Linked DNA regions of Homo sapiens: region 1 is linked to region 2. Evidence: fine-mapped expression QTL. A gene starts in region 2. The other region holds a variant in brackets. All regions are shown on one strand. Distances are between the middles of the regions. Region 1 overlaps COG7 (component of oligomeric golgi complex 7). Region 2 holds the start of GGA2 (golgi associated, gamma adaptin ear containing, ARF binding protein 2).

Region 1 (9,529 bases), 120 kb before region 2:
GGATGGCAGGGTCACTCCAGAGGGCTGGCCTGGGCGACCTGCCGGCCCGCTGGGATGTGTCCCGCCACGTGCCCACCGTGTCCCACATGAGGAAGGCTGCCTGATAGCCGGGCAAGAGTACAGGTGCCACGGTCACCAGGCTCACTCTGAACTCTGGCCCTGCCACAGGGTAGCTGAATGGCTCTAGGAAAGTCCTTAAACCTTGCCACACTGTGGATAAGACTCCCCGCCTCCCAAGGCTAGAGTGAGGTCTGTTTATTTATTTATATATTGATTGATTGACACAGGGTCTCACTGTCACCCAGGCTGGAGGGCAGTGGCGAGATCACAGCTCATTGCAACCTCCAATTCCTGGGCTCCAGTGAGCCTCCTGTCTCACCCTCTTGAGTAGCTGGGACTACAGGTGCCCACCACCAAGCCCAGATAATTTTTAAAAATTTTTTATAGAGATGAGTGTTGCTCTATCACCCAGGCTGGAGTGTAATGGTGCAATCTTGGCTCACTGCAGCCTCAAACTCCCAAGCACAAGCAATCCTCCCACCTCAGCTTCCAAAGTAGCTGAAACCAAAGGTGTGCACCACCACAGGCTAATTGTTGTATTTTTTTTTTGTAGAGACAGGGTCTCACTATGTTGCCCAAGCTGGTCTCAGACTCGTGGCCTCAAGCGATCCTCCCGCCTCAGCCTCCCAAAGCCCTAGGATTACAGGTGTGAGCCACTATGCCCAGTCTGTGGTGAGGTTTAAGTGAGACATCCCAGAGAGAGGCAGAGCTCAGCCCAGCCCCTGAGACCCAGGCAGGGCTCAATTCCAATGACAGCCCCTGTGACAGGCACCACTGCCATCCCCTTTCTTTCTTGTTAACAGAAACCCAATCAAGGCAGCCAATAAGCCCAGCTCAGGCTATAAATCCTGATTGGTCTAAGCCAGTGTTTCTCAACTGGAGGAAGTTTCTGGAGACATTTTTGGTTTCACAACTAGGAAAATACTACTGGCATCTAGTGGGTCAGGAAAGTTAAACAGCCTGCAACGCACAGAACAGCGTCAAACGCAGAGCTGTACAGCCCAAAACGTCAATAGCCAAGGCTGAGAAACGCTGGTAGAAGCCAGCCTGGGCTTTCCCGCCTCCTTTGTAGCGGGGATGCCTCATGACTGAGAAACAGCCAGTGAGGGCTAGGAGAAGGCTGGCCAGGGCTTCCAGGGAAGCCGCCACTTGCATGATAGAAGGGACAGAATTGCTGCTCTACCTTCTCTGCTCCCTTTTTCCCTGAATGCAGATGCAGCACCTGCAGTTGCAAGAGTCACCTGCCACGATGAGGCCTCCAGCACATGGGGCTAAGTTTCAAATCACAGGGCCTGACTCCAACCAGCCACTAAATCAGTGCCTGTAGCCACCACTATTTTTTTTTTTTTTTTTTTGAGATGGAGTCTCACTCTGTCACCCAGGCTGGAGTGCAGTGGCGCTATCTGGGTTCACTGCAACCTCTGCCTCCTGGGTTCAAGCAATTCTCCTGCCTCAGCCTCCAGAGTAGCTGGGATTACAGGCACGCACCACCATGCCCAGCTAATTTTTGTATTTTTAGTAGAGACGGGGTTTTGCCATGTTGGCCAGGCTTGTCTTGAACTCCTGACCTCAGGTGATCTGCCTGCCTCAGCCTCCCAAAGTGCTGGAATTATAGGCGTGAGCCACCGTGCCCAGCCACCTTTTACTTCTTTTTATTTCTTGTTATCAAGAAAAATTAATTTCTGTTTAAGTCACTCAAATTACGTTATTCCATTACTTATAGCCAAATATAATCTTAACAGATAGACGCTATTAATGAAAAACACTGAAGTTCATACACCATACATTTTAAAAAAGAAAAAATGTGGGCCAGGCACAGTGGCTCACACCCGTAATCCTAGCACTTTGGAGGCCAAGGCAGGAGGATCACTTGAGCCTCAGAGTTCGAGACCACCCTGGGCAACAAAGCAAGATCCCGTTCCTACAAAAAATGTTTTAAAAAATTAGCCAGGTATGGTGGTCTCCATCTGCAGTCTCAGCTATTTAACGGGCTGAAGCGGGGGAGTTGCTTGAGCCCAAGAATTCGAGGCTGCAGTGAGCTGCGATTGTGCCACTGCACTCCAGCCTGGGTGACAGAGTGAAACCTTGTCTCAAAAAAAAAAAAGGAAAAAACTGAAAGCCTAATTCCTTACCATGGCTGACGAGCCCCCTTATGATCTGGCCCCCAGCTTCTCCAGGGATACTGCTTCACCCTTTCCTCCATGAAGCCCCTCCTCTCCTGCCCCAGCCGCCCTTGGACATGCCTCAGGGCCCGGTCTGCACCACTCCCTGGGCCTGAACGCACCTCCTCCTTCACTCTCTGCCACATGGCTCTTACTCTGTAGGTCTCGGGCTGCCCACTTTATGCAGTGCCAGCTTCCACCCTGACACCCGCTTTTCTGCTAGCACTTACCTCTGAAATTATCCCCATTTACCTTCTTCTCCCTCCCTCTCCCACTGAACATAAGCTACAGGGGAGGACCCATATCCCTAGACATTCCCAGTGCGCACAACATGGCAGACATGTGGGAAGCACTAAAAAATGCACTGAAGAAGTAAGAGGCTGGGTGCAGTGGCTCACACCTGTAATCCCAGCACTTTGGGAGGCTGAGGCAGGCAGATCACTTAAGGTCAGGAGTTTGAGACCAGCCTGGCCAACATGGCAAAACCCCATCTCTACTAAAAATACAAAAATTAGCCGGGCGTGGTGGCGGGTGCCTGTAATCCTAGCTACTCGGGAGGCTGAAGGGGGAGAATCACTTGAGCCCAGGAGGCGGAGGCTGCAGTGAGCCAAGATCACACCACTGCACTCCAGCCTGGGTGAAAGAGTGAGGGGGAAAAAAAAAGAAGAAGGAAACAGTCTTCTTGCATTTCACAGTAGTTATTTATTCCATTTTCAAGATCTGATCCTTTAAAAAAATTATCTAAAAAGTCTTCTCTGATAAATAATACATCTTTAATTTACAACTCTTTTTGATTATACAAATGAACCAAGTCTTTTTTTTTTTTTTTTTTGAGACAGAGTCTCGCTCTGCTGTTAATTTTTGTATTTTTAGTAGAGATGGGGTTTCACCATGTTGGTCAGGCTGGTCTCGAACTCCTGGCTTCATGATCCATCTGGCTTGGCCTCCCAAAGTGCTGGGATTACAGGCGTGAGCCACCGTGACCAGCTGAACCAAGTCTTTTTAAAGTAACTTCTGCCCAATCTTGGGCAGAGTTTCTGAGCAAATCTGTGCTGGTGAGTCGCGAAACAGCAGCCCTGGCTCTCTTGGTGGTCCGGTGTGTGGTGGGGTCAGTAATTCACACTCCGCATGGTGGCCACGGTGGTGGCCAGGCGACGGGGCAGGCCTTTGCTGACCTGTCTATAGTCCTCAGGCCTGGTCTTCAGTAGCGTCACGATGTGCTGGAGGGTGCGGGACGGCTGCAGGCCCAGGGCATCCATCACGTTGATCAGATAGTCTGTGGGGGCGGAGAGGAGACAGACAGAGCTCCACAGACTCAGCACCAAGCAGGTCAGAGCCCCACAGGGCCTCCCCTGAATACGACACAGAGAAGCTGCCCTGCCAAGTCCCTAGATGTGGGGCGCCAACCCTGCCCTCAATAGGCCCTTTACTCACCAGGTTCTTCCCACAGTGTCAGACCAGACTGTGAGCTTGGCTCGAGTCTAGGAACTCTAATTTAATAAAGAACTAACCAACATCACTCCCATCCCCAACCACACACATACACACTCACATGCACACACACGCACACACACTCTCACATCCAAACTCACACAAACTCGCACACACACTCACATGTACACACACTCACATGCACACACTCTCACATCCACACTCACACTCACATGCACACACCCGCCTTCAGCACCAGTCTGAAGGACCAGCTGACCTCACCCAAAGCTCTGTTCTGGGGACTCCTGGGTTCCAAGCCCTGGCCCCCAGGGTATCCACTGACCACTTGGAAAACCCAGAGGGTCAGGAGACACACAAGCTTGTCTGAGCAGTTACTAAAGACCTCCAGTCAGAACGCCGCAGTGAAGACAAGGACAGTGTCTGGGGTGGGACCCTGGTATAACACAGGTTTCCACATTTCCCAGATGACCCCTGAGGCACTGGGGATACAATCGGATACAGATTTCTGAGCCTACCCCCAGACTAGGTTGATGAGCATCCCAAGAGAGGATTCTAGGGTTCTGTCATTCTACAAAGCGACCCCGGTGGTTCTAACCACCAGGCAAGCTTGGGCAAAACAGACAGCATGGGGGAGCAAACCAGGTGCAGCCAGGTGTGACCTCAGAGAAGCCCTTCTACCTCCCTGAGTCTCTGCTTCCATCTGTCCACAGTTACCACCCATCCGGCAGCATGGATAGGGGATGAAGCGGGAAACGAACATGAGAGCACCTGATGTGTCGCAGGTGATCAATATATCAATGCTGCCTTTCCCTCCTGCCTGGGCAGTGCAACCCAACCCAAGGGAAGCCTTGCAAAGCCTTCTCCAGCTCCTCCCAGTTCATGCTTGGAAAGACTAGAAGACAGCACCACCCGATATGCCCCTGGCTAGTTTTTTTTTTTTTTTTTTTTTTCTTTTCTGAGACAGAGTTTCACTCTTGTTGCCCAGGCTGGAGTGCAATGCTGCGATCTCGGCTCACTGCAACCTCCGCCTCCTGGGTTCAAGCAATTCTCCTACCTCAGCCTCTCAAGTAGATGGGATTACAGGCGCCTACCACCACGCCTGGCTAATTTTTTGTATTTTTAGTAGAGACGGGGTTTCGCCATGTTGGCCAGACTGGTCTCAAACTTCTGACCTGAGGTGATCCACCCACCTCAGCCTCCCAAAGTGCTGGGATTACAGGCATGAGCCACC[G/A]CGCTCAGTGCCCCCCCACCGGCTACTTTCTGATCTTGGGTTCATCTCTTCTCCTTGACTAAAGTGGAGCTCCAGGCAAGGCCTCAACTTTCCTTGTGTTTTTTGTTTTGTTTTGTTTTTAATATTTTGTAGAGACAGGGTCTCACTATGTTGCCCAGGTTGGCCTCAAACTCCTAGGCCCAAGCGATCCTCCTGCCTCGGCCTCCCAAAGTGCTGGGATTACAGGCATGAGCCATGGTGCCCAGCCCCCTGTGTTTTCTTTTTAGGCCCCACTCAGGGCAGGGCCAGGAGGAGATGCCTGCTCTGTCACGGCTGACTCAGGAAGAGCTGCTTCCCAGCAAAGGTGCCGCCAGGCACGTACTTACTCCTTTACAAGTTTATCCATAAAACCGTGAGCTCCACTTGACTGTCAGCCAAGAGCTGCAAAGAGCGGGCCCACAGTCTACTAGGACATTTTTGTTTGGCGAGCAGTGTTTTTTGTTCTGTTTGTGCTCATGCTTAATTTGAATGTCTTTCAGGTGTGCATGCTTTGCCACAGACCTCACCACTCTGTCGCCTTATACCCTGTCAGTTTCATATACTAGCCTTACCTTCCCTGCCCCTAACCGTACATCCTTACAGTGTAAGCTCACTAAGCATGGGAGCTGCCTAAAGCTTTGTTGTCTCTATCTCCTAGAACTACAGCTGGCACACAGATGCTCGAGCAATGCTGAATGAGTGAAGAAATGAATCTGCAGGGGGAGCTTAACAGGGAGGAATAACAAGGACAACTGAAACTGAGGGGCAATCCCTAGATTTCACTCCACTCACTAGTTCCAGTTCTTCCCCCTGCTGCTGCTTGTACTAACAGGGAACACCAACACGCATTTGAATTCTCTCATCTCTCTTTCTCTGAAGGGCAGTAGCCAAAAGGCTGCCTGTTCCTCTGGTAAGTGCTGAGAGCTGACTATGAAATGAGCAGGGGTCAGGAACTCAGGAAAGCTGGATCCCAGGCCTGGCTCCATCACTAACAGCTCTGGGACCCGGAGGAAAGCACCTTGCTTCTAGTTCTTCTTCTGCAAAACAAGAGCCAGAAGCCGGTTGAGCCTGGCTCAGCCCTGTGGTCACTGAGGACGAAGCTCTGGCTGTGTCCCCAGGGAGCTGATCTTTCAGGCTTCTACCACCCGCTCTCCTGACCACCCCGAGAGGTGCGTTAGGCTAAAGAGCAGACAAGGTATTGGAATGGCATCAAGAGACTGGGGAGACTCCCTGCCACCTGCCAGCAGTAGCCCCATGCTCAGAGTACACCTGGGCAGTGAGGCCCTCCAGTGAAGAGGGCAGGCAGGAGCAAAGGGGACACGCCCACTGACTTGGCAGGCAGGATGCTATCTGGATGGAGACCACAAAGTGACCCTGGCCACATGGCCTTGTTATGGAACTGCCCTGGGCCTCCGTTCCCTATCGGTATGATGGAGAAGAGAGCACCCACCTCACAGGGGAGTTTGGAATTACATAAGACGATGGGTGCGAGTGCTTGGTCCAGCGCCAGGCATGCCTGGTATGCAGTAAGAGCTCATTAAACACTGGTTGGGAATTATGGCACAAATGGAGCGGGCCAGGTGGGGCCAGGCTGCAGGACTCGCTGAATCTTATCTCACTGAAGCTCCCCTCAACGGTTCTCAAGTCCTCTTCGAAAACATAGATGTCTGAGCTTCAGCCCGGTCTTGCTAAGTCAGAATCTCTGGGGCAGGGCCTGGAGAACCTGAATTTTCAACCAGCTTCAGAGCCAAATCCACAGCTGAAGCTAAGGGAAGACTTGGGATGAGATTCCTGGAGGGCAAAGGAGAAACTGACAGATGCAGCAGGCAAGAGCTGTCCCTCCCACCGCCTGTCTTGTGGGGACCCACCGATGTCAGTGGCCAGCTGCTTGGCAGAGTGTGGGCTCAGCTCAGGGATCTGTAGGATCGCATCACAGTAGGTCTGCATTGTGGCTCTGGCGATCGAGCCCAGCCAGTTGTCAGCCATGTTGTCCAGCTCGGGCAATTCATCCCCTGAAAAGAAAAGGAGGTCACCAAGGAAAACACAGGCCTGCAGTAGCTGCTGAATGCACCAAAGTACCAGGAAGCTTCTGATCTCAATGGCAAACACAGGAAACCGAAAACAGTTACATCTTAGGGCCAGGTGCAGTGGCTCATGCCTGTAATCCCAGCACTTTAGGAGGATGAGGCAGGCGGATCATTTGAGGTCAGAAGTTCGAGACCAGCCTGGCCAACATGGTGAAACCCCCGTCTCTGCTAAAAATACAAAAATTAGCCAGGCGTGGTGGTGCGCGCCTGTAGTCCCAGCTACTCAGGAGGCTGAGGCAGGAGAATTGCTTGAACCCAGGAGGCGGAGGTTGTGGTGAGTCAAGATCGCGCCACTGCACTCCAGCCTAGGTGACACAGCAAGACTCTGTCTCAATAATAACAATAATACAGAATACAAAGTTACATACAAAATACCATCTGCTTACAGAGCAGAGCCAGAAGGCACAAGCGAAAGTGGAAATACCAGTGCGTTCCGCAGTGGGATGTGGTTATAGATTTTTCAAGTTGTGATATTGTTTTAGATACAGCATGTGTACAAAAAGTACATGTTAGAAGGTTAAAAAAAAACAGGACTTGGTGACAAATGAGCCCAAGGATAAGGTGTCATCTGGAGTTTCTACCCTGGAAACTGACAGCTTGACTTGTAACATCGCCAGAAACGGTCCCCGCTTACCCTGCTCAGGAGGAAATGGCAGCTTTCCAGCGTGCAATGCCAACTCTAAGGCAGAGTCCTCCTGAGTCACAAATGGCTCAAGATTCAGGGGGAGGGACATGATGTACTGCCCGATCTGAAACAAAAGAAAGCGCTGTTAGCCTGACATTGACACATACGGGTTATTACTTTATGGGTACATTTGTGTGAAGGCAAACGGCAGAGAGACAAAATTGCTAGACCTCGGGTGATCCCAAGTCTGATCTTTCTAGTATGTGGCGATGCTTGTTATGGCAGTACCCTAAAAAAGAATCACTGGTAGCTTGCATATAGATTATAGATTCATCCTTCTTATAATGACCTCAATATTTTTGAAATGCATTCAACACAATCTCTATCTCCAATGAAGTAATGGATATCAAAATGCTTTGTAAAATTTGAAGCATTGTGTAAATATAAGTATTATTACTGTTCATAGGTGAAAAACCAGTAAGATACTAGTGTCAGAATGTGTGGGGCCAAGCAAGAATTCAAATCCTGTCTTCTGAGGCCAGGCACAGTGGCTCACACCTGTAATCCCAGCACTTTGGGAGGCCGAGGCGGATGGATCTCCTGAGGTCAGGAGTTCAAGACCAGCCTGGCCAACATGGTGAAGCCCTATCCTACTAAAAGTACAAAAATTAGCCGGGGATGGTGGCAGGCACCTGTAATCCCAGCTACTCGGGAGGCTGAGGCAGGAAAATCACTTGAACTCGGCGGGGGCGGAGGTTGCAGTGAGCCAAGATCATGCCATTGCACTGCAGCCTGGGCAGACTCTGTCTCAAAAAAAAAGAGACTCTGTCTCAGAAAAAAAAAAAAAAAACCTGTCTTCTGGATTTGGATCTGATTCTCTCCCTCCTAGATAATTTAACCAGAAGAAGAAAGGAATTCTGTTTGAAAAAAAGCCATTTATAACTATAAATTACTTTGGAGAAAAAACTATATTGTTTTCATAATATAAACTCTTGAAACTAAAGATAGACAAAACCTTGGCTGGTGGGGAATTGCAAAAGGTCATTTGCAATTGTCCTAAAAGACATTTAGGACATGCCCACAATTAGCACAGTCTTGGTCATGTGTTTGTCAGATATCCACGTGATGCCAAGAGTGTATTTTAGACCACTGTTTCCTATTTCTATTGTAATTCATTGTTTTGTGTTTTAAGGTTAAGTATGTGTTTTGTTTCAAAATAAGGGGGTTGACTTTTCAGGTTTCAAAATGATAATATATGTTTTTAAAAGGTCTTTCTGCCTGTTGTTGTTTTTTTTTTCTTCCTGCTACATATTCATTCCATGACATTCCTGTCACTGTTAATTAACTCTGTAAACTAAAAGTCAGGAGACTATCAAAGCAAGAGCTTCTCAATCTGGCCTCACACATGTCTACGTAACAGCGGGCTCCTTTCAGGGTGTAGTGTCCAGAAGTTAACACAGACTCGAAAATCTACCCAGACCAGAGAACTACAGGATGATCATGCCCTTCTTTCCAAACATTCAATATGGTTTGGCTGTGTAAGTGTAAACATCCATTATTAGTTTGGTGTTCCTTTTTTCTTTTTTCTTTTTTTTTTTTGAGACAGAGTTTTGCTCTTGTTGCCCAGGCTGGAGTGCAATGGTGCAATCTCGGCTCACTGCAACCTCCGCCTCCTGGGTTCAAGCAATTCTCCTGCCTCAGCCTCCCGAGTAGCTGGGATTACAAGTGCCCACCACCACACCTGGCTAATTTTTTTTGTATTTTTAGTAGAGACGGGGTTTTACCATGTTGGCCAGGCTGGTCTTGAACTCCTGACCTCAGGTGATCCGCCCACCTCGGCCTCCCAAAGTGCTGGGATTACAAGCGTGACCCACTGTGCCTGGACTGGCGTCCC
Region 2 (8,000 bases):
CCAGCTCTCCGTCCGGGTGGGCCCACTTCGGTTTGCCTCACCAGCCACTCCCCAACGCTTCCCCACCTTCCTCAAGTCCCCTGTTCCACTTGAGCACCCAATACTCAGGTGGCAATGGTGGCACTGACGAACTTGTTTGCATGTGCAATCATCTTGATCTCCTTCGCCAGACAGTCAGAAAAACAAAAGGTGTCCTTCCTCTCTGTGAGGCCAGGTCCCCCTTTTTGCTCTGGCTCTGAGCTCCTTCAGCACCTTCAGGCCCCTCTGCAATGGATGGGACACTGGACCCAGAATGGGGGAGGGGCAGTTCCCCAATGGAACATCAACATGAAGAGGGGCTCACATGTCCCCCTCTCCTTCTAATAATCTCCTTTACTCCTAAATTCCCTCTCGCTATTCTCTCCCCCTCCTTCTACATTCAAGACTCATGAAAAACAGCTGAGGAGGCCACTGGCTGCACCCTCCCCACACATTTATTCTGCCTGGCCTTCCCCAAATTATGGGCCAAAGTAGGCACCAACTTCTGAAAACCCACGATATTTCACTTAAGAATATAGGTTCTAGCCGTTCCTGAAAAACAGGAAGATCTAGCAACTTTGGGACACTGCCCCCAAAAGCTGGAGCTTAATACAATGTATATGCCATGAAAAAAACCATAATAATAAAACACAAATTAGGCCAGGCTCATGCCTATAATCCCAGCACTTCGGGAGGCCAAGACTGGCAGATAACTTGAGGTCAGGAGTTTGAGACCAGCCTGACAAACATGGTGAAACCCTATCGCTACTAAAAATACAAAAATTAGCCAGACATGGTGGCTAATGCCTGTAATCCCAGCTACTTGGGAGGCTGAGGCAGGAGAATTGCTTGAACCTGGGAGGCGGACGTTGCAGTGAGCTGAGATCGTGCCACTGTACTCCAGCCTGGACAAGAATGAAACTCCATCTCTCTCTCTCTCTCTCACACACACAAATTAGCCGGTTGTGGTGGCGTGTGCCCGTAATCCCAGCTACTTGGGAGGCTGAGGCAGGAGAATTGCTTGAACCAAGGAGGCAGAGGTTGCAGAGAGCCGAGATGGCACCACTGCACTCCAGCCTGGGCAACAGAGCAAGACTCCATCTCAAAAATAAATAAATAAATAAATAAAAATACATTTAAAAAAAGCTAGAACTGGGGAGGCTGATGTGGGAAAAATGCTTGAGCCCAGGAGAGGGGTAAGCTGCAGTGAGCTGAGATCATGCCGCTGCACTCCAGCCTGGGTGACACAGTGAGACTCTGTTTCAAAAAAAGCTGGAGTTGAAGAACTGTGTCCTTGGGCAGCCTCAGTTCCAGGCACTCCTTTTATCTCCTCCACCTGAGGCAGCTACTTTCTCTTACTCCGGCTACTTTTTTTTTTTTTTTTTGAGACAGAATCTCGCCTTGTCACCTAGGCTGGAGTGCAGCGGTGCAATCTTGGCTCCACCTCCACAACCTCTGCCCCAAGGGTTCAAGTGATCCTCCCACCTCGGCCTCCCAAGTAGCTGGAATTACAGGTGTGCGCCACCACACATGGCTATTTTTTGTATTTTAGTAGAGACGGGGTTTCACCATGTTGGCCAGGCTGGTCTTAAACTCCTGGCCTCAAAGGATTGGCCCACCTCAGCCTCCCAAAGTGCTGCGATTACAGGCATGAACAGCCTTTTTTTCTAATTTTTGCAACTCCAGTCTAAGCCTTCTGTTCTCCATTGCCTCCTAAAACTACTACCTTCTGTCTCTACTGTTTAACTCAAGGATGTCTCATTAAATAACTGGTTGGTTACCAAATTCAAAGTTCTCTCTTCTCCTTCCTCATTCTCCTCCATCTTTAAGGAGCAAAACTACGTTACAACCACATCCCTCCTTTGCTATCAGTGGGTGCCCCTGCAGGTCTCCCCCTGCCTGTTTCTGCTCAGCCTTCAGTCTTCTCTTCCCATCTGCCTCTTCAATGCTGGGGCTCCCCACGCTCTCTTTCCAAACCTCTGCTCTTAATATACGCAAGCTTCTCCCGCAAGCTCACTGCCAATGAACCAGACTCCCAAACCGTACGTCCCACACTTGCCCTCTCCAGTGCCAACCAGCTGCCTAGAGGGCATCTCTTTTTTGACTATGCCACAAGCACCTCAAACTCCACATCTCAACCTTCTCTGCCTAAACCAGCTCCTCCTCACAGGGGAGGCATCTGTAACCCACCAGTTCCTCGAGCCTGAAACCCGCGATCTAGCCTAGATTTCTCCTTGTCCCCTGTCTGCATTCCAAGGCACCGAGGCTGCTGACTACGCCTGCTCATTGCTTCTCCCTCTCCCCACTGCCTTAGTCCTCCTGCGGCCCCCAACCACCACCAAAAGAGCTTTTTAGCCGCTCTCCCTGCCTGAAGTCTCACCCTCTCCGCCCAATTTAGCACCATATGGCTGCAAGTGACGCCTTTAACAGGCTTCCTTGATCAGATTCTCCGGCTGAAAACTCCCAAACAGCAACCCCGCCCTCGGATAAAACATAAACTCCTTTCTGCAGCACACAAGGCTCTTGAAGATCTCGCCCCAATTAGCCGTGCAGCCCCTTTCCCGGATTCCTGAGCTTTAGGCTTGCACTCCAGCGGACTGACCTACTTGTTCCCGGAGTGCTCCACATTCTCTTGTCCCCAGCTTTTGCACACGCAGTTTCTTCTGCCTGGAATGCGGTCGGCTGTGACGACCCCCAGGTAAACCAACTCCTACCACCACAGGTGAAACGAACGCCCTCCTCCTCCTCGCCAATCCCGTTAGTAAGGTGATGTGACTGCCGGCTTGTACCCACTAAAAAATGTTTTGGTGAGCAAGGACCCTGTGTTATGCATCTCAGTGTTCCTGGCACCTAGCAGAGCTGGGTACAAGGGGAATATTCTTTATCCCCTTTGAACCTCAATCCCTCATTGGTAAAACGGAGATAATAATAACCCCTAAGATGACTGTGAAGCTTACAGGAGACATGCAGAAGAATTCTGGCCAAAGGGTTTGAGCCCAACCAGGGTAACATAATGAGACCCCGTCTCTTAAAGGAAAAAAAAAACACACATATATATATATACGCACACACACACACACGTGTGTGTGTGTTTAAAAAAAAAAGTCTGGCCAAAGTAAACACAAAAGGTAAAAAATTTCTTTTTGACGCGGTAGCCAGATAGAGATCTTTCTCAGCCCCAAACAGACTGCATGTCTTGCACGACTGCGTCTCCTTAAGCCTCAAGGTCCCCGCTTCCGTAGTGGGGTTAATAATAGAAGCCAGCTCGGGGTGGGAATGAGGATTAAGCAGGACTAAGCCGCTGTGAGCACAGTGCCTGGCGCAGGGGAAAGCGCAGGTCACGTAGCCATTGGGGTGGGGGTCGGGGTCCTGTGCTGCTGCTAAGTTGGGGGGTGGGCGGAGGGGGAGGGGCAGAGCTCAGAAGGGGGCCGCTGCCCCGGCGGATGCTTGGGGCTCCTCTCGGGGGACCCCTGGGCGATCTTCCCCACCGCGCCGGGCCCAGGCCCCCTACCCGGCCGCCGGCCTCCCCTGCGGCCGCCCGCCCCGAAGCAAGGCCCCGGGAGGCGGGAAGCGAGGCCTCACGTGCGGCGCAGCGGCTGCGCCGAAGGCCTGCCAGGCTACTCACTGAGCCACAGCTCCAGCGACGCTGCCGGGCCCGGGGGACCCTGGGCCGACTCGGTTCCCGCCACAGCCGCCGCCACCGCGGTCGCCGCCATCGCTCCAGCCCCGACGCTGCGGCCGCGGGCGCCACTGCCTCTTCAGCCGCTGTAGCGTCCTGGCGCTCTCCTCTGCTGACTGCGCGGCAGGAGCGGTGGACACGTGACGGGGCGGGGCCGCTGGCGCCACGCCCACCCCAGGCCCCCCCTCCACGCGGGACCGGCCGGAACATTTCTTAGTCCAGATCCCTCCACCCAGCGCTGGTCTTCTAAGACCACTCACCGTACGGTTGCCAGATAAAATACAAGACGCCCAGTTAAATTTGATTTTCAGAAGAACACGAATAATTCTTTTAGCATTTTTATTTTTTAAGAGACGGGGTCTTGCTCTGTCACTCAGGCTGGAGTCCAATGGCGCGATCACGGCTCACTGCAGCCTCCACCTCCTAGGCTCAAGCGATCCTCCCGCTTCAGTCTCCGGAGGAGCTGGGACTAGGGGAGGGCACCACCACGCCTGGCGTGTGTGTGTGTGTGTGTTAGAGACTGGGTTTCACCGTGTGTGTGTGTGTGTGTGTGTGTGTGTGTGTGTGTGTGTGTTAGAGACTGGGTTTCACCATGTTGCCCGGGTGGTCTCGAACTCCTGGTGTTAGAGACTGGGTTTCACCGTGTGTGTGTGTGTGTGTGTGTGTGTGTGTGTGTTAGAGACTGGGTTTCACCATGTTGCCCGGGTGGTCTCGAACTCCTGGGCTACAAGATCCTCTTACCTCGACTTCCCAAAGTGCTTGCATTTATTTTTTATTTTTCTTTTTTTCTTTTTTTGAGACGGAGTCTCACTCTGTCGCCTAGGCTGGAGTGCAGGGGTGCCATCTCGGCTCACTGCAACCTCCACTTCCTGGGTTCAAGCGATTCTCCTGCCTCAGCGTCCCGAGTAGCTGGGACTACAGGTGCATGCCACCACACCCAGCTATTTTTTTTTTTTTTGTATTTTTAGTAGAAACGAGGGTTCACTATGTTGGCCAGGCTGGTCTCGAACTCCTGACCTCGTGATCTGCCCGCTTCGCCCTCCCAAAGTGCTGGGATTACAGGGGTGAGCCACCACGCCCGGCCTATGTGCTTGCATTTTTATTCACAGAAGGGTTTTCCTGGAACACTTTTTTTTTTTTTCAGATGGAGTCTCGCTCTGTCGCCCAGGCTGGAGTGCAGTGGTGCTATCTCGGCTCATTGCAACCTCCACCTCCCTGGTTTCCTGGAACACTTCTAAACTAACATGTCCTGCATTCCTCAATACTCTGCTTTATTTTCTGCATCACACAGTACACCATCGATGTATTATTTACTTGCTTATTCTGTTAAAAGATAATTTTCCCAAAAAAGTATGTCATGATTATCATAATTATGAAATGAATACGTGTTAAATATTTTATTTAATTACATGAGGGAACCAAGCAGATGTTATAATCAATCCAAAAGTGAAGTCAAAGAAGGGCAAATTTATCTGGAAAAAAAGGAAGATAAGACGAATGTGCAAATGGAGGCAAAACTGGCTTTTCGACCGGGGTGAGAGCTGTCCCTCCAGTGAGCGGAATTTACCTATTTATAGGCAAGAATTATTTTGCATTGGTATCAACTTAACAGAGTTATGAGACTTCTCAAAGACAAAGAAAGGCTAGAACCTGGAAGGTTGTGCTGTCTAGACAACACATAATTTTCCATTGAAGCTGTTGTGCCGTACCCCTATTAACTTCAGTAGGGATGGCACCATGTTTGAAAGGCGGAAGAAGAGACCCAGAGCCACTGAATGAGGCAGGTTTACTGAGGGGACTTACGGGGTGGTCTAGTGGCAGTGGGCTGGACAGGAGGACCACTACCATTTGTAAAGAGCATCAGTTTATATAGTATTTTCAACTAGCACCCTTCCCCTAGCAACCTCCATCTGGCAACCTCAATTTAACCCCAAAGGGCCTTGATCCCCCGTATGGCCTGCGTTCCACAGGATGGGGCCAAGGGTTCAGATGTTCCTCTTAGATAAAGAGTGAACCTCTGGGCTGGCCACTCTGTGATTCTGTAGCTTGGAACTCAGAACACACATTCTTCTTAGACCATAGGTACGTATGCCATACAGAAGCACAAATTCTTCCTTGTAGATAACTGAATAGCAATGGGTGATGATTCTTGTCCACACACAAGCAAATGAATACTGTTCTGGGAACACACAGACTTCTTGTGGAAAAACCAGTTCTGCCCCCACTTGCACATCCATTTCAACATTCCTGATCTATACATGATGTCCATTCTTTGGACTGGTTTGAACATCTCACCAGTTTCCTCATTAAGGAGTTAAAGAAAATCTTTTTTTTTTTTTTTTTTTTTTTTTTTTGAGTCTCGCTCTGTTGCCCAGGCTGGAGTGCAATGGTGCAATCTCAGTTCACTGCAACCTCTGCCTCCTGGGTTCAAGTGATTCCCCTGCCTCAGCCTCCTGAGCAGCTGGGAATACAGGCGCCCACCACCACACCCGGCTAATTTTGGTATCTTTAGTAGAGACAGCGTTTCACCAGGTTGGCCAGGCTGCTCTCGAACTCCTAACCTCAGGTGATCCGCCCACCTCGGCCTCCCAAAGTGTCGGAATTACAGGCGTGAACCACTGCACCTGGCCTAAATAAAATCTTTAATACATATTTATCTCTTGAAGATTCTGAACATCTGGCAACACTGGACCCGGCTTTCCACATTTCAACAAAACCTGGACGTGACTAGAGTCTCCACATGCTACAGGGGGCATGAGCTCTACAGTTTGCCAAGGACCATCCTTCAACTCCTGAAACTTTACTTATTTTAAGCACCTGCAATCCTTTAACATTTTTACATTGTTGGAGCTCAGAAAACCATATCCCAGAGCATGGTGTTTTGGCATAGCGAGTACTTTGAACTCAAAGACAGTGGAAACCCTCAGAAGCAGCCTCAGAGCAAAGGTTCTCTGACCTCCTGCCCGTCTTTCTTCTCCCAAGGCAAGCCACAGAAACTCAATTCCTCTTTCCCAAGATGGGTCAGGGAAACTCAAACCCCTCTCCCCTAAAGCCAGCCACAAAACCTAGACATATTACTCCAGCCTTCCTTTATTTCTGCTTAAGAGTTGGCCATAAAGAAATTCTCAGTCGGGCATGGTGGCTCACACCTGTAATCCCAGCACTTTGGGAGGCTGAGGCGTGCAGATCACTTGGGTCCAGGTGTTCAAGACTAGCCTGGGCAACATGGTGAAACCGCGTGTCTACAAAAAAATACAAAAATTAGCTGGGTGTGCTGGTGTGTACTTGTAGTCCCAGCTACTCAGGAGGCTGAGGCAGGAGGACCACTTGAGCCTGGGAGGCGGAGGTTGCAGTGAGCCGAGATCACACCACTGCACTCCAGCCTGGGCACGGAATGAGACTCTGTCTCAAAAAAAAAAAAAAAAAGAAAGAAAAAAAGAAAAGAAAAGAAAAGAAAAAAAAAGCAATTATCTGAGCTACTTTGTCTGATAACAGGTGGTCATGCCCCCTTATTCCTGCCCTATACCTAGGAAGAAGGAGTGATATACAGGTAAGCCAAGAAGAATTTGGACAGGCCTTGCTGGATCCCCCCACCTAAGTCTAATAGATCACTCATACCATTTTGTTCAATCCTATTTCTACCTGGCTGTTGGTCATCAAACCTAAATATAAAAGTAGACAGCCTTCCCTCGGTCTTTATTTCTGAAAGCTCCCATGTCAACATAAAACTTTTTTTTTTTTGATGAAACTTTTTTTGATGAAGTCCTGTCGCCCAGGCTGGAGTGCAGTGGCTCGATCTTGGCTCACTGCAACCTCTGCCTCCCAGGTTCAATTGATTCTCTTGCCTCAGTCTCCCGAGTAGCTGGGAATACAGGCACCCCGCCACCATGCCTGGCTAATTTTGGAATTTTTTTGTAGACACGGGATTTCACCATGTTGGCCAAGCTGGTCTTGAACTGCTGACCTCAAATGATCCGCCCACCTCAGCCTTCCAAAATGCTGGGATTACAAGAGTAAGCCACTGTGCCCGGCCTGTAAAACTTTAATTAAATAAATCTGTTATGCTTTTCTCTTGTTAGCCTTTTTTTTTTGAGACAGGGTCTTGCTCTGTCAACCAGGCTGGAGTTCCGTGGCACCACCAGAGCTCACTGCAGCCTTGACCTCCCAGGCTCAAATGATCTTCGCAACCTCAGTCCTCAGAGAGTAGCTGGGATAACAGGCACACACACCACCGCTCCCAGCTAATTTATTTAGTTTTGTAGAGATAAGGTCTCACCATGTTGCCCAGGCTGGTCTCAAACTC

Evidence for each region.
Region 1: its variant is fine-mapped to the expression of GGA2 in whole blood (INTERVAL, PIP 0.90).

Annotation. Positions count from the first base shown.
Region 1 is chr16:23,385,589-23,395,117 of GRCh38, forward strand. It overlaps COG7 (component of oligomeric golgi complex 7), which reads right to left. Exons shown (of 17, transcript NM_153603.4): 15 at 7,645-7,759; 16 at 6,792-6,935; 17 at 2,905-3,498. The coding sequence ends at 3,332. Among named protein-coding and RNA genes, the nearest start is that of COG7, 63 kb to the right of the region's middle. The variant G/A (reference allele first, on the strand shown) is at 4,906.
Region 2 is chr16:23,506,678-23,514,677 of GRCh38, forward strand. It overlaps GGA2 (golgi associated, gamma adaptin ear containing, ARF binding protein 2), which reads right to left and starts at 3,817. Exons shown (of 17, transcript NM_015044.4): 1 at 3,644-3,817. The coding sequence starts at 3,734. RefSeq lists silencers at 3,504-3,673, 3,744-3,973, 4,044-4,093.